Homo sapiens: one gene and its partners. The protein of the gene in region 3 purifies or fractionates together with the protein of the main gene of each other region. This does not show direct contact. Each region holds a gene or a part of one and is shown on either strand. Other genes may lie near its edges. The genes, in order: CAND1, TOR1AIP1, AIFM1 and ACAD10.

Region 1 (7,030 bases), on a different chromosome or scaffold from region 3:
AATAAATTGCAAGTCTATTGGTATGTAGTCCACTAAAACTCACGGACATCATTTTTAAACCACTCCAAATAACACCAGTGTCTTCAATGCCTTAGAATTCTCCTTGGCCAAGAAGGGTATTTCTTATTGCACACATGAATCCAAAGGAGCAAAATTAACTTACTTATGAGCACAAAATATAATCCCATTAGATTTCAAAGAAACAATTCCTTCTGGGAAGGAGGGACTTGAAGCAGCAGTGGACGATCTCGCCCTCACAAAATAGAACTAGCTAAATCCAAAACCGCTTAAAAATCTTCAAATTTTTTACTAAAACAGAAAGCAATGTCTAAGAATGAATGGCTATTACTGCTATTAATATTACTACCTTTTACTTGTTCTAATGGGGATGACACTGGTAAATCTGAAAACTCTTCCAGAATCTTCCATTTGAAAAAAGTACTGTCACCAATTATACTTATTGTAATTAGTATCAACAAGCTCTTCAGATTATGTTAATTCATTAGATACATCTTTTCCACATTTTAACACAATATAGTAACATTAAAATGTAGTTATCATGAGGAATTAGAACAGATTTAACCATTATCTAATTACCACACTATCCTTTAAAACAACAAAATGTCATTTGAATATCACTCCATACTACGAAAGACAGTTTTTCTTCATCACATACTTAGCTTTTAGGTTTAAGAAAATATAGACATGGCTTAACTTCTTTATTAGGTGTCTTTTAAGGCAACCAACTATCAATAAAAAACTTTTTAAGTAAGAAAATCTAGATACCTACCTGATATCAAGTACCCCTTAAGCCGTGGAAGGAGAGTTTCTGGATCAATTAGAGTGAGTTTTCCTAGACATTCAGCAACAACATTTCTGGTTCCTTCCTCTGCACACTCACAGTGCTTTAGTAATAAGGCCCAGATGTTTTCAACATATGGTTTAAGGCCCACCACTGATGCAGAGCTAATAATTTCCTTCAAGGAATGAAGTAAAAGATACTGCCTTTTGGGTTGACTAGTTATTTCTTGCAGGACAAACGGCAGATATTCAGGAAGGTTGCCCACACTAATGCTGCCTAATGCATAGGATGCAGCTGATTTGACTTCTTCACTAGGAGATGAGAAAGCTTCTAGTATTACAGATTTTAGTTCCAACTGTCCACTTAAGTCAATATGATGCCCAACTTCTCCAAGAGAAAGTAGAGCTAAGAGACGAATGGAATCTGTAGACCTTGAGTTCTTGACATCTTGAATAAACTGACCTACTACAGCTGGTCCCTCTTTAGGGCATGCTCGAGTAAGGGCAGCTACACATTTGGCAATGGAATAATAAGACTGCTTATGAGTAAGAGCTGTGCTCTGAGAGTAAACTGGACCAGTCAGCATGCGCAACAAATCCATGTATCCTAAATTATTTGTTCCAGTGACAACCAGAGCTTGGAAAAAGTCTAGCATGGCACTAAGAGCTCCCCCCTGCAATAAGGGTGATCTCACAAGTCCAATAAGTTCATTGAGAATGGATCCACTTATCTTTGAAAGGGAGGAGGGATATACTTTTGCCAAAGTGGTAAGAAAACTGATGGCCATTTGTGAAACATGCATATCACTTTCGCTGATAAGAGGTGGGAGCTCATCTAGAACTGCATCAATCATGGCAGCTGTCAAGCTGTCACTATAGTTTTTTATTAGAATATCAAGGGCAGAAAGAGTACCCAGTTTCAAAGCTCTCTGGTTTTTTCTAAGAAATGAAGCAAGGATAGGAACCCCTTCTCCCAGAACAGGCCTCAAATCTATCTTCAAAGGTGACCCAGCAATCAGTGTCAATGCCTTTACTGTAGTTAACCTGGTAATTTCATTCTTTAGTCTCTCCAAGAAAATCTGAAGTGTATTAGGCAAGTCAGAACCCAAATTGTCTCCAAGGTTGCAAATAATTTGTCCCATACAGGAAATAGCCCTTTCCTTGACTTCCTGATCAATGTCAGCTGCTTTTAATCTCTTAATGGTACAGGTAAATAGATCTTTGATATAAGGAGTTGCATCAAACGAGGAAGGCTGATCTAAAGGACGAATTACTTTGACAAGCTGTTGAGTAACAAGAAGTGCTTCAGATGTAATTTTGTAAAATGGGTCTCCAACACAAGCCACCACTGGAGGAACCAAAGCCTGAACGTGAGGATGGAAGACTTGAGGAGAATGGTTACAGAGGATTACGTATAGACATGACAAAGCATCGATCTTCAAATTCGATGAGCTTGATTTATCATTCAGTGAGAAAATGATTCCTAAAAAGCCAACAAAAAATCCAATCATTGCTGTGCAGACTTTTAAGAAAGAAAAATTAAAAATCAACCCCTATAGTACTGCTAATGTTCCCACTTCATTATATTATTTCTATAAGTAGAAATTTTCACCATCTACAATAAATATTACAGCCAAATATTTTAGGGTGAGACTTTTAACCTTTTACTTACAAATTTCTAACTTCAGGTATTCAAGATTGTTAGATTAAAAAGTTAGCTCTATGTGCATATTAAGTTGTCACATATATTCCTTTAAAAGGAAACAATTATTTAAGCTTATCTAAGTCCTAACAAAAAGGCTACAATAAGTCCCAAAAGAGATTTATGTTTCTTTCATACCTGGTACAAGTACAGGAATGTGTTGAGTTAGGGCCCCAGGTAATACATTTACCAGCTCAGTTAACATGTTAAAACAACACTGTCGGGTCTTCACACTTTTTTCTTTCATCTGTTTGTGAAGAGCTTTAACAATGTTGGGAACCTGCAATTATCATATAGTCATTAGCTGGTTCAGCTGTTGGTATTTCCTCAGTACACTTAACATGAATTATGGAGAATGAGGATAAAGGGAAGAGTTTATCTTTTTTTGTTAAATTCCTAATTCAGCTATCTATTGCTATTGCTAACACAAGATCAAGTTTGTTGCATGTATTATATATGTTCTCTTGTAACTATATTTGCTTGATACTGATAAGAAATTACAGAAAAGCTATCATTTAGCTTTCCAGAGAGCAACAAAATAGTCTTCCCTACTTAATTTTTAATTGTGAAACATACATGACTAAAAAGAAATTAATAGGCTGGGCACAGTGGCTCACGCCTGTAATCCCAGCACTTTGGGAGGCTGAGGCAGGCAGATCACGAGGTCAAGAAATCGAGACCATTCTGGCCAACATGGTGAAACCCTGTCTCTATTAAAAATACAAAAATTAGCTGGGCGTGGTGGTGCATGCCTGTACTCCCAGCTACTCGGGAGGCTGAGACAGGAGAATCGCTTGAACCCAGGAGGCGGAGGTTGCAGTGAGCCGAGATAGCACCACTGCGCTCCAGCCTGGCAACAGAGCAAGACTCCATCTCAAAAAAAAAAAAAAAAGAGAAAGAAAGAAATTAATCAAATCATATTTTCAATAAAAAATTTAGGAGGTTAATTTATAAATGGTATTTTGAATGACAACAGCACAGATAAAAATCAAAGGAAACAAGACAAATTATGGAAAAGCAACCATCGAACAGGTCCTTTTCTTACTTTCCATTTGCTGTTAGAAGGAATCAACCTCACTTCAAATGTAGCTACAAGCAGCAGGGGTATGATTAAAAGACATCTGCTCTAAACTTCCTAATGTTTTGCTAGTCAGTAAAACAAACAGGGTCTCTACTAACAAATCTTACGGATGCAAAGCTATCAACGGAGCTTCTAGAATACCTCAACAGCAAAGCAAGTACAGAGTAAAAACAAAAAGCCAAGAAAAATCCCAACAACCAAACTACATGGACACATACCCTAATTACACAATGATCTAAGAACTAGACAAAACAAAAAAAATGTCTGACTTTCCATAGCATTGTCAGAATTCCTGGCAACTCTACTGAGCAATACCTGACTTCTATATACTCACTCACTTGCATATGTCCTCCATACACTTTATCTCATTTCCTTCTACAATTAATCTTCAACATTCACCTTTATGAGTAAGTTCACCACAAAAATGTATTTATTTGTACTACTTAAAAACAAGATAGATACAGTATGTGTGTCCCGTCCTCTCCACTGGTTTAATCCCTGGCAATATCTGTTTTGTAATCTATAAAAATTGACCTACTATTTGTGCATCCCATAGGGCTGCTGTAGAGATTACATATAAGATAGGAGAATGCCTGGTATGTAATAAATATTCAATAAATGGGAGCATATAATAGCTCTAATGTTTAGGATCTTAGAAAACAAATGCCCTCAAGTGAAAAAATGTGTATTTTATTAGTAAGTACTGGCATATATCAAGCATATATGTAGTAGGCACTACACTGAATGCTCTACACAGATCACCCAGCTCTCACAACCACAGGTAGATATTTCTAAGTACGTTCTTATTACAAATAAGAAAAGTGAGGTTTAATAAAATGACTAAATAACTTGCCCAAGATCACACACCTAAATTAGAAATGAAGTCAGTTATGTGATCGCAAGTAGTATGACTCCACAGCTCTAAGACTTCTCTATTAACATCAAAGATAAAGACTACTTTACTGAATCTTAAAATTATTTAAATATTGTTTATCATGTAAAGCCAAGAATAATTCAATTAGAATAGTTTACAACTAACATAATATGAACATGCATTAACTATATAAACATATCCTAGAACTTTCTGCTTCTCTATAGATATTCTGGAACTCACCTTTCCATATAAAGACAATTTTAAAAGCATTGCATTTACTATCATGATTTTCTAAACTTTACTTTAAAACCCACCTGACTCTGAAGCATTGTTAAAGGTGTTTCTCCCTGCTCCATTGCATCAGGGTCACATAGCCAACTTTGTACAGGACGAGTTTGCTTCAAAAGAGAAAGGTATGCGTGAAAAACATCTGCCTTTACATTCTCTTCACGCTCTTTAAATCTGGATATTAGTGCAGGAGAGACGGTCTTGTAGAATTCTGGAAGCATTTCATGCCTTGTGCTAACTACAGCATCCAAGCACTTCGCAGCTGCACGTCTCACTTTCCAACTCATGTCATCATCATCACTGTATTCATCATCACTCCCTAAGGGTAAGTTTTAATGTAAACAGGCTATTAATGACAAGAGAAGTATATCATTTAAAACAGAAAATCAATTGATATTCTTAACCAAATCAGTTAATCTAACTTTCCGGTAACATATACAGCAACAGGTAGGTTTCAACAGAACTAGAACTTGAACAAAGAGCTTGTTATTTCTGTAAATCTGCACATAAATTAAACTTAAAAAACAAACATAATGGTATTTTTAATTAGTTAAACATTTTCTCATTTACTTTGTAATGAACTGCTGCTTATTTTAACCCTTTAAAATCATCAATTAACACATTCAACTTCTTTAGAATATAAATATTTATAGTCATAAATTTCCCAGCCTTTGAAACAAAATTCAAAGAACTTACTTAACAGCATAGGAAAAATCAAGCAAACAATCAGGGACTTTATAAGACAAACCATGAAATGGATTTGTGGTAATAGAGTAGGTGATAAAAAGAATGGTTACCAATCCCAAAACACTGTAGAACTAATTTGCTGGGAATAAAAAGAAGGTTGACATCAGCTTTGTGACTACAAGGCTTTTCACTCAACTTGTTGATAAGCTGTGAGGAACAAATATGTATATTCTAAACCTTTCACAATTTTGTCTTAATGTACTTTAACAAAACCATTTTTGCTTAATTATACCAAGAAAATGCTGCACACTTAACAGAGGACCATTTTTTCCCCTAATGCTAAACCTTAAACATTCAAAGCAAAAGCACTAAGAATTGTATCTCACTTATCTATACTTGATGGATAACATGTGTGTGAAATCTCCAGAAAATCTTTCTTTCTAACACCATCAGGTTTAATTAGTTGGGTAATATGAAGTCAGAAAGGTGGCAGAAATATTAGCAGTTATCATGATAGTCTAAAATTATCTCACAATAATTTCTTTATTCTTAGATAAGACTATACATAGCCTTGAAATAATAGAGCGGAGTAGTAACTTTTTACTGGCTTTTATTCCAATTAGCTTAGTTTGACAGTCAAATGTAGCCAGCTAGGCCTTAGAAGATTCTACAGTATACAACAAAATAATAAAATTTTCCAACTCAAAAGCTTAAAATTCACCTTAGCACATTACAGGAAAATACAACCAAATACTGCTAAATGCAAGACGTTTGCTTATTTACCAATATCTATTCAAATAAAGTTAAAAGATACTGCCAAAATACACTATCAAGTTAAGAGCACATAAAATTTTTTCCATGTCAATACACTATGGCAATTGCCTCCCAGAAATATAAGCTTTATTAAAAACAAGATTATAAAAAATTAACAAATGTCCTTATTCACTAAAATTACGTTGATTTTATAAATCACAAAAACACCATGGTAGAAAAGTCATTTAATGGGTATAATTCATACTAAGTGATAAAGCAGGTGAAGTACCTAGTTTGTTATACAGCACACAAAAAAACAAAATTCAAAACCTGGAATATACATTGCTACTGCTTTCTTCAAAAGATATTCATATTAAAATATAAGCTAAAGTTTCCCTTCATTAATACAACCCATTTATTGATTGCCTGTGTGTCAAGTACTGTCCTAGGCACTGGAATAAAGCAGTCAATCAAGAGATTAAAACATCTAGCCTTCATGAAACTTATATTCTAATAGGTAGGAGACCATCAATTACAGTATGTCAGAAAGTTACTAAGTGTGATAAACAAAATAAAAACAATAAAATGAAAGATAGTTCTGAGGTGGAAGACTAGCTGAGGGATGTGTGAAAAAGGAATCAGGTATGACTGCAAGGTTTTTGGCCTGATCAACTAAGAAGAATAGAGGTACCATTCTGAGATGGAAAAGGCTAAAGAAGAACAGGTTAGGTGGGAGATGGGGAAGGGGCAGGGAAAAGATATTTTAGATATCCAAGCAGCAATATTAATTAAGCAGTTGCATATGAATCTGGATTCACAAGTGAGATCTGGATTAAAGATAGGA
Region 2 (7,030 bases), on a different chromosome or scaffold from region 3:
GTTTTGCACATAGTAGATACTTAACAGATAGATATTCATGAATTTTTAAATTAAGCATTTCTAGAATGGCCCCTTTTTTTAAACAGCTAGCACATGTTTGTATTCAGAAAAAGTTGAAAATAAATAAATGTAAATCGATACTTGTATTTATCATCAAAGAGTAACTCATTTTCTCAGGGCAGATTTGAAAATTTACCTTGTTATAATTGTAATGTCATTTTTTAGTCATCCCATTGTGTCATTTTACAGTTATCCTTAAATACCACCTCAAAACCTGAAGTAGCATGTTTTACTTCATAGCTACTTTGCAATGTCCATAAATCTGCATAGATAGTACATACCATTTCTTTATGGTATGGTATGTGGTATATGATATGGACTGCCTGGATTTGTATCTCAGCCCAACTACTTTTAGATATATAATTTTGGAAAAATTACCAATTTTGGTTCCCCCCCCCCCTTTTTTTTTTTTGAGACAGAGTCTCGCTCTGTCGCCCAGGCAGGAGTGCAGTGGTGTGATCTCAGCTCACTGCAAGCTCCGCCTCCCAGGTTCACGCCCTTCTTCTGCCTCAGCCTCCCGAGTAGCTGGGACTACAGGCGCCCACCACCACGCCTGGCTAATTTTTTATATATTTAGTAGAGACGGGGTTTCACCGTGTTAGCCAGGATGGTCTCGATCTCCTGACCTCATGATCCACCTGCCTTGGCCTCCCAAAGTGCTAGGATTACAGGCATGAGCCACCGCATCCAGCTGATTTTCCCTTATTTATAAAATACGAACAGTAATAGCATCTACCACATAAGAATTAAGCAAAATTGGCTGGGCATGGTGGCTCATGCCTGTAATCCCAGCACTTTGGGAGGGCGAGGCAGGCAGAGCATTTGAGGTCAGGAATTTGAGACCAGCCTGGCCAACATGGTGAAACCCTGGTCAGGAGTTTGAGACCAGCCTGGCCAACATGGGGAAACCCTGTCTCTACTAAAAAGACAAAAAATTTGGTCAGGCATGGTGGTGCACACCTGTAATCCCAAGTACTTGGGAAGGTGAGGCAGGAGAATATCTTGAACCTGGGAAGCGGAGGTTGCAGTGAGCTGAGATTGTGCCACTGCATTCCAGCCTGGGTGACAGAGTCAGACCCTGTCTCAAAAAAAAAAAAAAAAAAAGAATTAAACAAAATTATACTTGATATATATGACTATATGTAGTTTTTATTTTGATGGTACTGATCCTAAACTAACTCCTTATTGTTGCCCAATTCCTAAACATTTTGAAGTTTAGAAATGAGGGGGAAAGAAATACACACACACTTTATATATATATATATATATATATATGTATATATATGTATATATATAGTATATGTATGTTTTTTATATATATATACTTTATATATTTATATGCTTGGAATTGATGAGAGAATGTTTTTTGTCTGTTGTTTGTTTTTAGTATCCACAGTAAACAAGCAAAATGTCTGTGCAACATCTTTTTTGTTGTTATTTTCAAGTATTCTATGACCTTATCCCTGTTTTCTGTTTCAGGTCAAAACTTCACAGCTCATGATAAGCAACCTTCAGTGCTAAGTAAGTAGTTGGTTGTCTGCTCTTTTTTCAGCCAATCAATTCTTTTCTCTTTTTTTTTTTTTTTTTTTTTGAGACGATGTCTTGCTCTGTCGCCCAGGCTGGAGTGCAATCTGGGCTCATTGCAAGCTCCACCTCCTGGGTTCACGCGATTCTCCTGCCTCCGCCTCCCAAGTAGCTGGGACTACAGGCGCCCGCCACCACGCCCGGCTAATTTTTTGTATTTTTAGTAGAGACGGTGTTTCACTGTGTTAGCCAGGATGGTCTTGATCTCCTGACCTCATGATCCACCTGCCTCGGCCTCCCAAAGTGCTGGAATTACAGGTGTGAGCCACCGCACCCAGCCTCAGTCAATCAATTCTAACCTTGCCTTATTCTCCCAACAAAAGTTGTAATAAGATTTTAAGTCATTTTACCCCTCTTTACCTTTTTAATTCACCACGGATTGGTACTACCTATAATAATTACTCTGTGATATGGAAATGTGTTCAGGGCTATTTTACCACAAGTAATTTGTATTATGTGATAATATATTTATTTGCTACCTGCTTTGCTGTAGGAAGTGGTTCATCCTCACTGATACGATCCTTTGAAATTATCTTTTACTTATAAAACTATTGCTTTTATTGTTTTCTTCCCCTACTTTATTTTGTCTTTCTGATAGATTAATTTTATAACACTGGAATATGGTATAAACTTTCAAAGTATGGGAAATTATCTTTTGATATATGTATTTGCTTCAGGCTCAGGATATCAAAAAACTCCCCAGGAATGGGCCCCACAAACTGCAAGAATAAGGACCAGGATGCAAAGTAAGTAGATAAATCTCTGTTATTGAAATAATCTTGTGTATTTGCTATGTTTTTCTTGACAAAAATATTTAGTTCTTCAGATAAACATTTAGGTTGTTTGTGATTTCACTAATAAAGTACAGCTATGATTACTAGTTTAGTAATTTCTTGGACTGGCAGCACATGGGCTGGGTGTAGAATGTAAATAGTGGCGTGAGAAAACCAGAGATTGGCCAGGTGCGGTGGCTCACGCCTGTAATCCCAGCACTTTGGGAGGCCGAGGTGGGTGGATCACGAGGTCAGGAGATCGAGACCATCCTGGCTAACACGGTGAAACCTCGTCTCTACTAAAAATATTTAAAAAAGAAAAATTAGCTGGGCGTGGCGGCGGGAGGCTACTCGGGAGGCTGAAGCAGGAGAATGGTGTGAACCCAGGAGGCGGAGCTTGCAGTGAGCCAAGATTGCACCACTGCACTCCAGCCTGGGCGACAGAGCGAGACTCCATCTGAAAAAAAGAAAAAAAAAGAGAAAACCAGAGATTGATGGATTTTAACAAGCTGTCAGTTATAGCAGCAATACAGTCTGTATACAATAATGAAATTCTACTCTTTTGACAATACTTATTTTTTGCTTTTAGCAGATTTTGGAACAGCTTTGTATACTCATAATTTTACATAATAAAGGCTGAAATGCACAAGTTATATTTTCATGTTTAGGGTTTTTTTTCTGTTTTTTGTTTTGTTTTGTTTTGTTTTGTTTTGTTTTGTTTTGTTTTTGAGATGGAGTCTTGCTGTGTTGCCCAGGCTGGAGTACAGTGGTGCAACCTCAGTTCACTGCAACCTCTGCCTCCCGGGTTCAAGCAATTCTCCTGCCTCAGCCTCCCAAGTAGCCAGGACTACAGGCGCGTACCACCACACCCAGCTAATTTTTGTATTGTTACACGCCTGGCTAATTTTTATATTTTTAGTAGAGACAGGGTTTCACCATATTGGTCAGGCTGGTCTTGAACTCCTGACCTCATGATCTGCCTGCCTTGGCCTCCCTGAATGCTGGGATTACAGGCTTGAGCCACTGCGCCCAGCCTTTCTGGGTTTTTGGGGGTGTTTTGTTTTGTTTTGGGTTTTTTTTGAGATGAAGTCTCCCTCTGTCGCCCAGGTTGGAGTGCAGTGGCACAATCTCAGCTCACTGCAGCCTCCGCCTCCCACATTCAGGTCATTCTTGTGCCTTAGCCTCCTAAGTAGCTGGGACTTGCATGCATGCGCCACCATGCCCAGCTAATATTTGTACTTTTAGTAGAGACGGGGTTTCGCCATGTTGGCCAGGTTGGTCTTGAACTGCTGACCTCAAGTGATCCGCCTGCTTCAGCCTCCCAAAGTGTTGGGATTACAGGCATGAGCCACCACACCCAGCCTCATGTTTAGGTTTTGGATGGATTAAATGTCACAGAATTTAAGGAATACTATAAATTGATGTGATAAAACCATCGTACTTTGAACTCACTTTCTATAATTTCTATGGAAATGCGTCCACGTTAAATCTCGACCATATTTTTTTAAAGTCCATGCATATTCTCTGCCTTAAGTGACCTTTAACCTCCCTACTTTACTCATCTAACCACAATAGGTCTTGAGGTCATCAGGTATTCTCTTACTTTTATTTAGGTAATGTAAAAATCCACATCTTATATCTCTTGCTCATGGGATGATTAACTGTAATTGGACCAAATGACATGCGTGGCTCTGCTTTTCCATCAGTAAAGTAGGAGTGGTCATAATTCATTTTTTCTCAGCAGTGACGTTTTTAGCCCACATGTAAGTGAGTTCTTAAGCAGTCTAGAACCGAAATAACTTTTTGCCCTTGTCTTACTGTTGGTTGTCATTTCTTATTGCTGTGATTATGTGCCTGCTATTAGAAAACCATTTCCTCTTATAATTTGCTCTTCCTGACCTATTATAGTTAGGAAACCAAACATTAATTATTCAGCTTATTAGAATTATGTTTATAACCAGGATCAAACATTAAAATTAAATTTGAAGACCCAAGAGATACTCTTGGATGTAAAAATGCATGAGTTTTAGTGTATATAATGTGAAAAGCTCAGAGGCATCTTGTGTCATTTCTTAGTTCTTAACTGTACATTCTGAGTAATTAATATCAGATAAATGACTTCCAGATAAGTGAAGTTAGTACATACTTATCAGAAAATCTTTGCATAATTTTTTCCTCTAATAAGACACTGCAATAGAGAAGGAAACATAATTATATTGAACATCTAATAGAAATGCAGAAATAGATCTTTTTAGTTGCTAAATTGATAGCTAATTTTTAGTATTTTATCTGTTTGCATTTCTACTTTGTCTTAAGTTACTATGTTTATTATGGCTTACAGAATTATACATTGGTTGCTAACCACCTACCATATATAGATAACCACATTGAGCTTTCAGAGTTATGTAACAGTAACACACCAGAAGTGTGCATGTAATAGGATCTTTTAGACTTTCAACCACATGAGGACTTTAAGATAGAACGATGAGCAAGAAGAAAATATTTTCAATGGAAGTGGAAGACTACAGTGATTTTTCAAACACTGTTATATAATAGATTCCTCTTCAAGAATATTAAAAAAATGTTTTCCTAGCATTCCACATTTTATCTCTCATTCTTTAACTATATATTTCTGCCCGCTTTGGTGAGGAAAAAAAAGTCATTTTTAGAGCTGAGTGTTCAAGAACCTTAGGCTATAGATTCTACCCCATGGAACATTGTCACCCGACGTTAGCAACAGTTTCCTGTAGACAGGTCCCAGTTCAGGCTTCTGCCTGCATCCAAACCTTTTAGGAAAGATGGAACCACTGTCTTTACTTTTTCCTGTTTGCCAGGTGATAAAACAATGATTATAGAGAAGAATATATGTGCATGGAGAGGTCAGAGAACTAATATAAATGTTTTGGAACCTGTCTCAGAAATTTAGATAGAGAAAAGAAGACAATTTGGAGTTAAAGCTCTTGAGCTCCAGTCCTAGCTCTTCCACTTACTAATTGAGTAATCTTGGTAAAATCACTTAACCTTTGTGAACCTCAATTTTCTTGCCTTTAGAGACAGTAGTGCCTATAACTAGATTATTGTAATGAGCTTATATGTGTAAACACAATTTTTTAAAGTCTAAAATCTCATAATTATCAGGGCTTATTTATTGTTAATGTTTTCTGTAGAATCAATAGCAACTATGGAGGATTTGTGCCCTCTACTCTTGATGGTTGTAGAGTGATTGATTATCACCATACTCTTTAGACTAGAAAAGCTTGAGTTTTTTCTTTTTCTTTTTTTCTTTTTTTTTTTCTTTTTTCTTTTTTTTCTTTTTTTTTTCTTTTTTCTTTTTTCTTTTTTTTGAAACGGTCTTGCTCTGTTGCCTAGGCTGGAGTGCAGTGGCGTGATCTCAGCTCACTGCAACCTCTGCCTCCTGGGTTCAAGCGATTCTCATTCATGCCTCAGCTTCCCAAGTAGCTGGTGGTGCACCAATACACCCAGCTAATTTTTGTATTTTAGTAGAGACAGGGTTTCACCATGTTGGCCAGGCTGGTCTCAAACTCCTGACCTCAGGTGATCCACCCACCTCGACCTCCCAAAGTGTTGGGATTACAGGCTTGAGCCACTGCGCCCAGCTGAGTTTTTTCTTTTAAAAAGATGTTTTTTAGAATTGTTGTTAGCATCTCTAGTAATGTTGATAAAAAGGATAGCAGTTATACTTTGGACAATGTCCTGCCTTGGCAGTATATACCCTGCTGTGTATGTGTTTGTGTTATATGAATTATATAAATATTATATATGGTACATAATTATTATTTAGCTGTCCTTCATCATTAACATCATAGAATTGCACTTCACAGCATTTTTGTATATATTATCTCATTTGATCTTTGCAACCATGGAGTGAAGTATTCAAAATAAACATTATCTGATGGATTTGGGTTTCATGTGGTTAGGTATTTTTATTGTTATTTTAGTTGTAACTTCGATAACCTAACTTAGAAGCTTCTAAATAATGAAATATCCTAAGCTAAACTAGTAATTGAAAAACAGTATTCCTCTTACAGTTGCTGTCATTTTGTCTTACTACATCATTATGGAGTTTTTTGTCATATGATCAAAAATAAGGCTATTTCTGAATCTTAGCAGGGCTAATATTATTCCTCCAGTTATTCCAGTGTTTCTCAAATGAAAGTTGTTGATATAACGCTAAGAAGATCCACCAGGAAGTTCATTTATATATACAAAAGTTATAAAACTCCAGGCAAGTGATAGACGGCAATACTGGTAATATAGGTCATACAAATGAGATAACTCAGCCTCTCCACCTTCTGAAGCCTGTCCTTCCATTTCCTCTCTTAGATTTTAAAACCTGCTGGTATGCTAAGAAAGATGGAAGGGAAAGGGAAGGGTTAGGATCATTTTTAATTTCTTTTCTTGTTTTTAATTTTTTTTTTTTTTTTTAGAGATGGGGTCTCACAATGTTGCCCAGGCTGGCCTTAAACTCCTGTGCTCAAGCTGTCCTGTCACCTCAGCCTCTTGATTTGTCGGAATTACAGGCATGAACCACTGTGCCCGGCTTAATTTATTTTCTAAATAGATTTAGATGAAAGTAGAAATTTGACAGAGTT
Region 3 (6,010 bases):
TATATTCCATTAAGCGAATTTCACAGTTTACGGTTGCTCACTCGTTGGATTTTTAGGTTGCTTTGGGGGAGTCTAAATAGCCACAAAGATGAACAAAGGGTTAGAGAGCTCAAATGCCACATCCTTCATGAAGCTGGTCCAGTTCACCCCCGGCTGGAGGTTCTCGCCCTCTGCTTGAAATACTTGACTCCTTTAATCTGTACCTCTCATATGGCACACTACTGTTTACATTGCTCTGTAGTTGTGAGCAAGGCTGTATCTTTCTGTACTAGGTTGTATGCTCCTCATAGTCAAGGTCCATGTCAGTTTTGTCTCAGCAACCCGGACAACATAATACTTTTGTATATAATAAGTACTCCATAAATATTTGTCGAATGAATGAATACTGAGTGACAAAAAGAAATCTAAGAAAACATTTCTAGGTGAGAGGCAGTCACATCCAAAAACTGGTTTCTACATATAGAAAAGAATATTCTGCAAATCATGGTTATTAAATATCCTGTCTGTTAAGGAAAGAACAGGAAGTAGACATAAGTAAACAAAACTATAGAAGATTTAGGTTAGCTTTATGGAAGCAGAATAGATTTTTTTTTCTTTTTTTTTTTGAGGCGGTGTCTCGCTCTGTTTCCCAGTCTGGAGTTCAGTGGCACGATCTCAGCTCACTGCAACCTCCGCCTCCTGGGTTCAAGCCATTCTCCTGTCTCAGCCTCCCAAGTAGCTGGGATTACAGGCGCTTGCCACCACACACGCCTAATTTTTTGTATTTTTAGTAGAGATGGGGTTTCACCATATTGGCCAGGCTTGTCTCGAACTCCTTGTGATCCACCCACCTTGGTCTCCCAAAGTGCTGGGATTACGGGCATTTGCCACTGCACCTGGCCTGGAATAGATGTTTTAAAATGAGATCTCAGGCCAGGCGTGGTGACTCATGCCTGTAATCCCAGCACTTTGGAAGGCTGAGGCAGGCACATTGCTTGAGCCCAGGAGTTCAAAACCAGCCTGCGCAACATGGCAACACCCCATCTCTACCAAAAAAAAAAAAAAAATTTAGCCAGGCATGGTGGTGCATTCCTGTAGTCCCAGCTACTTGGGAGGCTGAGGCGGGAGGATCATCTGAGCCTGGAGGTCCAGGCTGTGGTGAGCCATGATCGCACCACTGCACTCCAGCCCAGGCAATAGAGTGAGACCCTGTCTAAAAGAAAAAAAAAAAATTTAAATGGGTTATCAGCTGTTTTTGTTAGTTTAAGTACAACTCTGGCCTGTAGATGGAAAACATGAATTAGTTACCATTACAAGTGTTCTTTGAGCCCCCAAAGTTTATATTTTGTCTTTAACTTGCTTTTTTTTTTTTTATCATGTGTTCATGTTATGTATTTGTTTCCACAGGCAGGAGATGCTGCATGCTTCTACGATATAAAGTTGGGAAGGAGGCGGGTAGAGCACCATGATCACGCTGTTGTGAGTGGAAGATTGGCTGGAGAAAATATGACTGGAGCTGCTAAGCCGTACTGGCATCAGTCAATGTTCTGGTAATAGTGGTGTGCCTTGGAGACCCAACTGATTACAACTCAGTATCTCTAGGACCATAACACAGAGTTATGGTTTGGTTTTATTATGAGCCAGTTAGCTTCATACAGAAGGGAAAAAAGTCCATCTTATGTCCACACATTCTACCCTCAGGTAGCCATCTGGCAGAAGTGTCCTGTTTAGTTTTTCACCAAACTGATCCTTTTGTAAAACATTAAAAGAGAAAAAAATTATTTTAAGTGTTCTGTCTGGCGTATGTTAGACTAGGTGAATGAATGGAGATGGCACCAGCACTTCCGGCAAAATAGGTCAGAGGCCGAGGTGGGCGGATCACGAGGCCAGGAGTTTGAGACCAGCCTGACCAACATGGTGAAACCCCGTCTCTACTAAAAATACAAAAATTAGCTGGACGTGGTGGTGCATGCCTGTAATCCCAGCTACTCGGTAGGCTGAGGCAGGAGAATTGCTTGGACCCAGGAGGTGGAGGTTGCAGTGAGCCGAGATCACACCACTGCACTCCGGCCTGGGTGACAGAGCGAGACTCCGTCTCAAAAAAAAAAAAAAAAAAAAAAGGAGTGTCAGAAAGCATTCCAGTCCTAAAAGATGAAGGCTGGTCTGGTATGGTTGCTCATGCCTCTAATCCCAGCACTTTGGGAGGCCAAGGCCGGGGGATTGCTTGAGCCCAGAAGTTCGAGACCAACCTGGACAACATAGCAAGAGCTCGTCTGAATTTTTTAAATAAAAAGTTTTTAAAAGTTAAAAAAAAGAAAAGTGGAGGCTAAGGGGAAATACTGTAGGTTAATGAAGCCATAAAACATCTCAAATTCTGAATTCCATAAATGTGGAACACTCTTTAAAGCTTCAAAAAGGGAATTTCAAGACAAAAGTAGTGAATAGCAAAAGTGGGAACCTCATCACTTTCCAAATGTGGCATGGGATAAAAGCACGAATAAATTCAAGAACGTTTCAATCACCGCATGGATATGTGGTCGTGTATAATGGCTTTTTAAGGAAAAGTCAAAGCTATTAGGGTTAATCTTACTTTCTCATGGTCATCCCTAGATGCTCTAGCAACAGCAGATCAGTTGGCATCTCTCGTGATCTGCATACTAAGTTCTTTGGTTGGCATAAGAGTGCGGTGTTGGTCGGGTGCGGTGGCTCACATCTGTAATCCCTGCACTTTGGGAGGCCAAGGCGGGCAGATTACTTGAGGTCAGGAGTTCAAGACCAGCCTGGCCAACATGGTAAAACCCCGTCTCTACTAAAAATACAAAAATTAGCCAGGGTGGTAGTGGGTGCCTGTAATCCCAGCTACTCAGGAGGCTGAGGCTGGAGAATCACTTGAACCCAGGAGGGAGAGGTTGCAATGAACTGAGTTCGCACCCATTGCACTCCAGCCTGGGCAACGAGTGAAACTCCGTCTCAAAAAAAAAAAAATGCAGTGTCATGGAGAATATGTGCTACCGTGTCATTCCTTACAGTCCCTTGACAGAACACCCTCTTCTCTCTTCTTAGGAGTGATTTGGGCCCCGATGTTGGCTATGAAGCTATTGGTCTTGTGGACAGTAGTTTGCCCACAGTTGGTGTTTTTGCAAAAGCAACTGCACAAGACAACCCCAAATCTGCCACAGAGCAGTCAGGTAAGAAAGTCCTAGCACTCCTCTTGGAGAGTGTTGAGAAGCAGTGGTCCAGATTCTCCTGAACAAGGGGTTTCTGTATTGGCCAGAGGGGCTTGTCAGTGAAAGCCTCTCTTCATGTTGTGCTTTAAAAGAAACCAAACCCCAAGTCCTCACTCTTTAGTGGTCTGAGATTTGGCAAAATCAGGTATCCTGGTCAAAGCATAGATTCAAATATTGTGGGTATCTGTCCTAGACAGTGGACAGTGGCTAGCTCAATGACACTGCTGTTTTGTGTGTCTCTGGGAAGACCTTTCTAAGGAAGAAAACAAGAAAACCTGAACTTTTTAGATTGCGTTTTTATTTTTCTTTCTTTCAGTTGTCATTTTTATTATTTTGCTTCAGGCGAATCTCAAGAACACGGCCTGATAGGCTTAGCTTAAGACTGGCTATCCTCCATGGGTCCTGCGCAGGGAGGAACTGGGCTGAGTAGTTATTTAGCTGCCTCCCATTCCATTTGGCAGATCTTAGTGCCAGGTTTTCTTTAGATGGGAGGCACCTCTCTTGGAATGGACTTCTCTCCCACACATGTCTCTTTCATTAACTCCGAGACCTTATTCCTTGACCTTAGCTCAAGTTATTTAACTTCTGCATCCTTTTGCCAGAGGTGTCTCAAGGGCAAGGTGCTGTTTAAGAAGGAGAAAGCAAGACATTATATGGATATGTAGGTCCTTTTCCTGTGTAATTCTAATGTATTCCATATTCCTTAATTCTGATCTCTCCTAGTAACCTAGTAAGTGGATTCATGTCACTGCTTTGTCGACTGGACAGTATTATTTGGAGGCTGGTGGTTCTCAGCAAGGTGCCCCCTTCCTATGCCACCCTTCCCTTCCCCTCTTTCTCTAGGAAGAAATGCCTCCACTATGGTTTTTCCAAATGGAAGTGCCTTCTGCTTTGTCTAAAGTACCTGTCTAATAGCACTGTCCAATAGAACTTTCTGCTGCGATGGAAATGTTCCATCTCTGCTCTGTCCAGTACGTTAGCCACCAGCCACATGTGGCTTTTGAGCTCATGAAACATGGTGAGTACAGATAAGGAACTGAATTTTACATCTTACTCAGTTTGAAATGATGTTCATTTACATGGCTGTGGCTAGTGGCTACTGTATTTGGACCATGCAGCTCTAGAATTATTTCTTAGAGGACAAGAACCAGCCTTCTGCAGTTTGAAGAAATCCAGATACCAGGAAATATTCATAGCATGAATTTAAAATGAGATAATAAGGGAGGGAAGTTTAGGGTCAGACTGACCCTGTGCCCAGGAGCTGGCAAGGAAGACCTTTCCTTGGCTTTGTCACTGGAGAGGGGCTGGTGAAGGCCAGGGTTTACTGAGGGGGCATAGAGAAATAAATCCTCTAGAAGTAGCTTGAAGCAGGCCTCGAAAGACTGTTGGCTTCTAGAATTTCCCAAGCTCATAATAACTGAAGTTTTGATTTTGCTTCCATGTTTATTTGTTTTGGGGGCTGGCCACAGGAACTGGTATCCGATCAGAGAGTGAGACAGAGTCCGAGGCCTCAGAAATTACTATTCCTCCCAGCACCCCGGCAGTTCCACAGGCTCCCGTCCAGGGGGAGGACTACGGCAAAGGTGTCATCTTCTACCTCAGGGACAAAGTGGTCGTGGGGATTGTGCTATGGAACATCTTTAACCGAATGCCAATAGCAAGGAAGGTAGGTGCCTGTCATAACTCTTAGAGGAAGATGGGAAGTACGGCTTAGAAACATTCCTGTAACTTCATCGGGTGCCCTGAGATGCATTGTCCCCCGGCCAGGTCAAATTGTGCCTGAGCAGAACAAAGGTATAGCCTTGGCTCAGGAACATTCTTTTTCACTTGGGACTTGGCTGGGTGACCTGGGAGTTGGCAGGCTGCTTGTTTGGGGTTAGTAGAGAACTGTTCCCACAACTCCCTCCCAGTGTGATATGGGGACTGCCCCAGGTAGCCCCATTGTGTGGGCATGGCCTGAACGCAATGGAGTAAGTTAGGGACCTATTGTTACTCTCTCTCCCTCAGATCATTAAGGACGGTGAGCAGCATGAAGATCTCAATGAAGTAGCCAAACTATTCAACATTCATGAAGACTGAAGCCCCACAGTGGAATTGGCAAACCCACTGCAGCCCCTGAGAGGAGGTCGAATGGGTAAAGGAGCATTTTTTTATTCAGCAGACTTTCTCTGTGTATGAGTGTGAATGATCAAGTCCTTTGTGAATATTTTCAACTATGTAGGTAAATTCTTAATGTTCACATAGTGAAATAAATTCTGATTCTTCTAAATTAAATTCTGTTCTCTTGTCAAGGGGGCAGGTGGGTGAAGGTGGAAAGCCACGCATATTAGAAAGCAAGCAAATTGCAGCACCGACCAAGCACAGGATTTTTCTCAGCCATGTATTCATGCCCTACTCCAGACGCAAAACTCCTTTCATTTCCGAACTTCCCTCACCCCTCCAGACCTCTTTGCACACACCTGCTGTGGCCTCGGCCCACAACACTTGACTCCCCTCCTCTCCTCTCAGGAAGTTCACTATCTCTGAAGACTTTCCCAGCCTTCCAAGCCTCATCCTTGTGTATGTGTCTCCCTGCTAGCCCATGACTTCCTGGAAGCAGAAGCCCTGATGTTAAGGCCTTGCTCATGGTTTTATCTCCAGAGCTTAGCACAGGGTCTGCTTCATAGTAAGTGCTTCATAGATCATTGTCGAATGAGTGAACAAATAAATGTATGGAATAGACTTTGTTTACCTGGAACAACTCCTGTCCCAGAACTGGATTGGGTCCTGCAGGGGACAGAAAGGGCACTTACTACAAATCTGAG
Region 4 (7,030 bases), on a different chromosome or scaffold from region 3:
AGAGTATCGCTCTTGTTGCCCAGGCTGGAGTGCAATGGTGCGATCTCGGCTCACCGCAACCTCCACCTCCCGGGTTCAGGCGATTCTCCTGCCTCAGCCTCCCAAGTAGCTGGGATTACAGGCATGCGCCACCACGTCCAACTAATTTTATATTTTTAGTAGAGACAGGGTTTCTCTATGTTGGTCAGGCTGGACTCGAACTCCCGACCTCAGGTGATCTGCCCACCTCGGCCTCCCAAAGTGCTGGAATTACAGGTATGAGCCACCACACCCAGCCCCACCTGGCTACTATTTTTAATTTTTTAATTTTAATTTTTTTTTTTGAGATGGAGTCTTGCTTTGTCACTCCGGCTAGAGTGCAGTGGTGCAATCTCAGCTCAGTGCAACCTCCGCCTCCTGGATTCAAGTGATCCTCCTGCCTCAGCCTCCCAAGTAGCTGGGATTACAGGCATGTGCCACCATGCCCAGCTAACTTCTGTATTTTTAGTAGAGACGGGGTATCACCATGTTGGCGAGGCTGGTCTTAAACTCCTAACCTGAAGTGATCCGCCCACCTCAGCCTCCCAAAGTGCTGAGATTACAGGCGTTAGCCACCGCGCCCAGCCTTATTTTTTATAGAGATGAGGTTTTGCCGTATTGCCCAGGCTAGTTTCAAATTCCTGGGCTCAAGCAATCTGCCTGCCTCGGCCTCTCAGAGTGCTGGGAGTGTCACCACACCTGGCCACAGTCTTTTTTTTTAAATTTAAGTGTATATAGTGAGCAATTTCTCCATGTTAAGGAATAGATTTCCACAGCATCATTTAAAGTCTCACTGTATGCCATCTTGTGTTTTATTTGGCCAACAGTCATTGTTAGCCTTATAGGTTGTTCAGAATTTTGCTATTTCAATAAGCACTGTGGTGAACCTCCTTGTAGCAAATCTTTTGTAGATTCCTAATTACTCCAACCAAGTCTTCAGTGGAGGTGCCATGTTCATGCTATGCACTTTCTGGAGACTTCTGTCTGACTCATTCAGTCCAATTATTCTGCCAGAAGGCTGAATTTAATTCCATGTGGGGCTGAAGCACCATACCTGAGTCCATAGACAGGAGCGTTTTACTTAGAAAGAAAAAATAACTGGTCAGTCTTAACTCAAAAGGGTGTAAATCACAGGTTTGCTCGGTAATAAAAAATTCAGACTGCCTCTGTTCTTTCAATAGCAGTTCTTGTGAGACACTGGTTTTGGTCTCAGGGTTTGCGTCACCTTTCTGAAATTGATAATCACCAATTTGAATTCCTGTCCTGGAAGCAGCTGTCTTTTAACCTAGGTTTCCAAACTTTGGGGGTGGTAGGATTATGGCCGAATAAAGTTTTCTGGATGTGCTGTGGAGGAGGGTGGTACAGGCCAGATGATGGAAGCCTAGGGACAAAAACAAGCAACATGGGATCTCCCTGGTGTCTGATTTTTATTTATTTATTTATTTTTAAAGAGACAGGGTCTCACTCTGTCACCCAGGCTGGAGTGCAGTGGTGTGATCACTGCTCACTGCAGCCCTAAACTCCTGGGCTCAAGCGATCCTTCTGCCTCAGCCTCCTGAGTAGCTGGGACTAGAGACACATGCTACCATGCCTGGCACTTAAAACTTTTTCTTTTTGGCCAGGCACGGTGGCTCACGCCGGTAATCCCAGCACATTGGGAGGCTGAGGTGGGCGGATCATGAGGTCAGGAGATCGAGACCATCCTGGCTAACACGGTGAGATCGAAACCATCCTGGCTAACATGGTGAAACCCCATCTCTACTAAAAATACAAAAAATTAGCCAGGCATGGTGGCGGGTGCCTGTAGTCCCAGCTACTCGGGAGGCTGAGGCAAGAGAATGGTGTGAACCCAGTAGGCAGAGGTTGCAGTGAGCCAAGATCGCGCCACTGCACTCCAGCCTAGGCAACAGAGTGAGATTCCGTCTCAAAAAAAAAAAAAACAAAAAAAACTTTTTCTTTTTTTTGCCGGGCACGGTGGCTCACACCTGTAATCCCAGCATTTTGGGAGCCCGAGGCGGGCAGATCACGAGGTCAAGGGATCGAGACCTTCCTGGCCAACATGGTGAAACCCTGTCTCTACTAAAAATACAAAAATTAGCTGGGCGTGGTGGCACGTGCCTGTAGTCCCAACTACTTGGGAGGCTAAGGCAGGAGAATTGCTTGAACCCGGGAGGTGGAGGTTGCAGTGAGCCGAGATCACACCACTGAACTCCAGCCTGGTGACAGAGCAAGACTCCATCTCAAAAAAAAAAAAAAAATTTTTTTTTTTTTTGTAGAGACTGAGTCTCTCTTTTTCGCCTAGGCTGGTCTCAAATGCTTGGCTTCAAGCAACCCTCCTACCTAGACCTCCCAAAGTACTGGGATTATAGCTGTGAGCCATTGCACCCAGACTGATTTTTAATAATGTGCTAGCAGCATGACCTTTACACCTTGGAACCTTGCCTCTGCTGCTACAGAGCCTGGCGTTTCCCTTCAGGTCACCTCGACAGAGTGGGGTCCATTCTGCTCTGAATCCAAACTGCAGCAAAGTAGCAGATGCAAAGCAGACAGGAATGCAACTTCTTGGCAAGGACATCACCTTGCTTCACCTGCTAGGACTGCACTCAGAAAACAGGTAGGAATTGAAGTCCGACAGCAAAGCAGAAGGTGGTGGTTCTGAGTCAGTGCTGGGTGCGGGGGAAAGCACTCACGCGGGCCTTCATGAGTGCCAGGGCCCTCTCTGAGAACCCGATCAGCCTCATGCAGTGATGGATCCTGCCGGGGCCCAGTCTGCCCTGGGCGATCTCAAAGCCTCGGCCAGGGCCCAGGACCATGTTCTCTTTGGGCACACGCACGTGCTCAAATCGGACTTCACCATGGCCACCTGAAAGACCCAAACGATCACTGTGAGCAATAGCCATAGTCATTTTCCTTGGATGTGTTTATTCCTCACCTCAGTCTGGGTTATCTGCTGGCAATGTCCCTGCCCTTTATTTAGCCTTCTTACTGGGACATGGTTAAAGGGAAAAGGACGGCAGGAAACAGCCTGTTAAACACAGAAAATGAATCACTGATTTATAATGGCAAATGACTATTCTGTGATTCCTTTTATAAAAACATAATAATGCCACCTTAAGCTGAAGCTCCTAGTGGTTTGTGACAATGTAGTGATCCTATGAAAACACTGAAAGTAAAAATGTGAACACTATTAGCAGAGAACCAAACTGGGAGCGGACCAAACCAGGGCTGTGGCCTAGAGGTCAGCTGTTCACACTGGGGCCTGGAAGAGTAGGTTTGGGGTCCACTTCCTGCGTCTGCCCTGTATGGCTTCCTGTGTCACAGACTCCTGATTACTTTCTAAGTTTAGAAGAGGGAAAAAAATCCATAAATGCCTGTCTGAAATCCGCCTGCATGGTTGATATTCATGTATGGAAATGAAATGCAGGAGCATGTGACTCCAAATGTCATCATACCCTCAGACGTGGGATGTGGCAAGTCCTGAACAAGAGCAGGGGCCCCTCAGTGGTGTTTCCTGGGGACCAGACCCACACCCAGGGGTGACCCGCCCCTGGAGGTCTCACCTGGTGCATCTTCCAGTCCATACACCGTCAGAGGCCGGATGATTTTTATCCCTGGGGTATCCATGGGAACCAAGAGCACAGACTGCTGCCGGTGTCTTGGTGCATGTGGGTCTGTTTTTCCCATAAACACACAGAGTTGGCAACGAGGATCCAGGATGCCTGCCAGGAAAGGAGAGAGACAGACCCCATCATCTGACACCAGGGCCATCAAATCTCTACACACGTGGTCCTGGCCCAAGAAAGGCACAGTAAGGAAGCAGACAGAGCTCTTTAAGGCTCCATGTAATCAGATGAGCATCTGCAGACTGCTGACCAGAAATAAGAGCAAATTGGGTTTTGTCCCAGTGAGGAATGAATCCAACATCATAAGAGCAAGTTTTTAAAAGCATCACATAGAGTAGAAAATATAATTTAGAGACAAGAGGATGAAAACCGCTACTTGATCCCTGCCAGCTGGCTCGGCTCCCACAGGTGGTGCACACATAACGGCTCTGGGCCCGGGCCTTGGAATCAGGTGAACCTTTGACTCTGGGTTCTCTACTTGCTGGCTGGGGGCTCATACCCCAGGCAAGGGACCTAAGTCTGAGTGCGGTTTCCTCCTTTGCAAAATGGGGATGCTCATTCTTAATGTCCAGGGAGGTATGGGCTCCGGGAGGTAAGCTCCACGGCTACTTGTAGGGGCCCTGCAAAAGTAACACTGGACAATCCCTAAAAGTCAGGATTGTCATTAGCCCTTAGGATGTAACACACCTGATCGAGGAGCCAGGAAGCCACCAAGGAAGGGGAGCTGCCCAAAGCAGAATGAACAGCAGGAAGTGGAGAGATTCCTGGGGTCACATGTGCAGGGAGGCATCCGTCCATGTGTGGGCACCGGGGGACGTCCCTGCCCTGTGAAGTGCCACCTCTGAGAACAGTGTGCTCCACGGATTACCCTCCTATTCTCCCAGCTGCCTCTGCTGGGGGCGCTAAGTGACAGAATCTCCTTTGTGTCAACTTGAAAAAGCAGAGGCTCCTCCCAGGCATTGAGAGACGCGCCTAACAGCACAGACTCCCTGATGTGCATTTGGAAAGTGCATTTTAGGCCAAATACCTGTGATCCACCATTTGTGACCGTTTATGACATAGAAGCTGTCCTCCTCTCTGATGGAAGCCTCAATGTTGGTGGCATCTGAAGAGGCAACCTGAGTGGGGAGCATATTCCAGTCAGAGACGCCAGCAGACAGCCCGTGTTCCCTGTGGGGCCGACAACAACAGGGCCAGGCAAGTGGGTGGCAGCCCAGGCGACGTACCTGGGGCTCGGTCATAGCAAAACAGGAGCGGGCTTTCCCCTCCAGCAGAGGAATCAGCCAGCGAGCCTTCTGCGCTTCGGTGCCATACCTCACCAGCAGCTCCATGTTGCCCGTGTCAGGCGCAGAGCAGTTACATACCTGAGAAGGAAAAGGAGCGTGACCATGACTGTCATGTCCTCTTCTAAAAAAAACAGAGTCAAGCTCTGTCACCCAGGCTGGAGTATCGTGGCACGATCATGGCTCACTGCAGCCTCGACTTCCTCAGCTCAAGCCATCCTCCCATGCCTCAGCTTCCCAAGCAGCTGAGACTACAGGTATGCACCATCACACCCGATTAATTTTTTATTTTTTTGTACATACAGAGTTCTATGTTGCACACGCTGGTGTCGAACTCCTGGCCTCAAGTGATCCCCCACACTTCGGCCTCCAAAAGTACCGGGATTACAGGTGTGAGCCACCATGCCTGGCCTTCTCACATTAATATTTCAAGCTTCAAATTGGATGGGCATGGTGGCTCACGCCTGTAATCCCAGCACTTTGTGGGGCCAGGGTAGGTGGATCACCTGAGGTCAGGAGTTTGAGACCAGTCTGGCCAACATGGTAAAACCCTGTATCTACTAAAAATACAAAAATTAGCCAGGTGTGGTGGCACATGCCTGTAGTCCCAGCTACTTGGGAAGCTGAGGCAGGAGAACCACTTGAACCCAGGAGGCAGGGGTTGCAGTGCGCCAAGATTTCGCCACTACACTCCAGCCTGGGTGACAGAGCGAGACTCCATCTCAAAAAAAAAAAAAAGTTCAAGTTCATGCCAGTGCTTCTGAATCTGGTTTATCTGTTTAGGATTGAGTTCTTATGAAGATCAGGATGTTCCCACACACTGAGGAAAACTTTAAAGAAGGTACCTCGGGGGCATACAGGGACGTGCCCATGAGCTCACACAGATGTGCATATTCCACATTGGTCAGTCCTGCTCCGTATTTTTTCTCGGGATCAGCCTCTAAGGGTAGGAAAAGGTTCCAAAGTCCTTCAGCTTTGGCTTTCTCCTATCATGGGGAAAATAAGTCAGGAAACCACAGTGGAAGATTTCATTTTATTTTGAACCGTGGAAAACAATGAAAGGGATTGGAGGAAACAAGGCAGACAACCAAACATGCACGTGTGCCCAAAAAAATGATATGAGGAGCTGGGCATGGTGGCTGTGCCTGTGGTCCCAGCTACACAGGAGGCTGAAGTGGGAGGATCACATGAGCCCAGGAGGTTGAGACTGCAGTGAGCTATGACCACACCACTGCATTCCACCCTGGGTGACAAAGCGAGACCCTGTCTCAAAAAAAAAAAAAAAAAAAAAAAAGAGAGAGATGGTGGCTCACGCCTGTAATCCCAGCACTTTGGGAGGCCGAGGCGGGCGGATCACAAAGTCAGGAGTTCAAGACCAGCCTGAACAACATGGTGAAACTCCATCTCCATTAAAAATACAAAAATTAGCTGGGCATGGTGGCACGTGCCTATAATCCCAGTTACTCGGGAGGCTGAGGCAGGAGAATCGCTTGAACCTGGGAGGCGGAAGTTGCACAGAGCAAGACTCCGTCTCAAAAAAAAAGAGAAAAAAAGAAAAGTAGATGATGATTGCATTATGCTCCTGAAGATCTCAAGTAATTTCAAAACTAACACAATCCAAGGTTCACGTGATAAGGAACAGCGGGTGTTTCTGTTTATCAGCTGAAGTGACAGCACTGGGAGACAACACAGAAACTCAGCTCACAGTGGATCTGGCCCTCTAGCTGTGATATTACGGGTTCTCTAGAGAGAGATTTATTAGCTGATACAGCACTGTTTCAAATTTACATAATTCAAATACCCATCAGATAGGCCTAACCTGCCCTGGCTTTCTAAGGCCAAGCATTCCACTGCCTGGGCTGTGCAGTCACACCTGAGCCATCTGCCTGTGACACAGGCACAGCAAGAGCAAGAGATGGAAACTGAGTCATGAAGAGCTGGCTCTTTCTGAGACGATGGAAGCAAAGATCATTCAACTCGGAGCTCCTGTATCTTCACTGCCTGGGATGGTTCAGGTGAGCCCGGTGGGGTCGGGGAGGGTATGCCATGGTATTGGGGTCTTACCACCTCACCATGGCTGCTTTACCTTGAGGTCTTCGATCAGTG

The links.
Region 1: the proteins of AIFM1 (region 3) and CAND1 purify together in Homo sapiens (affinity purification with mass spectrometry; 2 studies listed by BioGRID and IntAct, with this or other methods). This does not show direct contact.
Region 2: the proteins of AIFM1 (region 3) and TOR1AIP1 purify together in Homo sapiens (affinity purification with mass spectrometry; 3 studies listed by BioGRID and IntAct, with this or other methods). This does not show direct contact.
Region 4: the proteins of AIFM1 (region 3) and ACAD10 purify together in Homo sapiens (affinity purification with mass spectrometry; 2 studies listed by BioGRID and IntAct, with this or other methods). This does not show direct contact.

What each region holds. Positions count from the first base shown.
Region 1 is NC_000012.12:67,300,358-67,307,387, reverse strand, and holds part of CAND1 (cullin-associated NEDD8-dissociated protein 1), read right to left. Parts: intron 5,066-7,030; coding exon 4,773-5,065; intron 2,784-4,772; coding exon 2,642-2,783; intron 2,285-2,641; coding exon 791-2,284; intron 1-790. UniProt on the Homo sapiens protein: Key assembly factor of SCF (SKP1-CUL1-F-box protein) E3 ubiquitin ligase complexes that promotes the exchange of the substrate-recognition F-box subunit in SCF complexes, thereby playing a key role in the cellular repertoire of SCF complexes.
Region 2 is NC_000001.11:179,906,284-179,913,313, forward strand, and holds part of TOR1AIP1 (torsin-1A-interacting protein 1), read left to right. Parts: intron 1-1,539; coding exon 1,540-1,581; intron 1,582-2,321; coding exon 2,322-2,390; intron 2,391-7,030. UniProt on the Homo sapiens protein: Required for nuclear membrane integrity. Induces TOR1A and TOR1B ATPase activity and is required for their location on the nuclear membrane. Binds to A- and B-type lamins. Possible role in membrane attachment and assembly of the nuclear lamina.
Region 3 is NC_000023.11:130,128,832-130,134,841, reverse strand, and holds the end of AIFM1 (apoptosis-inducing factor 1, mitochondrial isoform AIF precursor), read left to right. Parts: intron 1-1,386; coding exon 1,387-1,529; intron 1,530-3,042; coding exon 3,043-3,167; intron 3,168-4,675; coding exon 4,676-4,872; intron 4,873-5,213; coding exon 5,214-5,285; 3' UTR 5,286-5,480; downstream 5,481-6,010. UniProt on the Homo sapiens protein: Functions both as NADH oxidoreductase and as regulator of apoptosis.
Region 4 is NC_000012.12:111,745,024-111,752,053, reverse strand, and holds part of ACAD10 (acyl-CoA dehydrogenase family member 10), read right to left. Parts: coding exon 7,011-7,030; intron 5,911-7,010; coding exon 5,770-5,910; intron 5,006-5,769; coding exon 4,868-5,005; intron 4,760-4,867; coding exon 4,669-4,759; intron 3,738-4,668; coding exon 3,579-3,737; intron 2,882-3,578; coding exon 2,709-2,881; intron 1-2,708.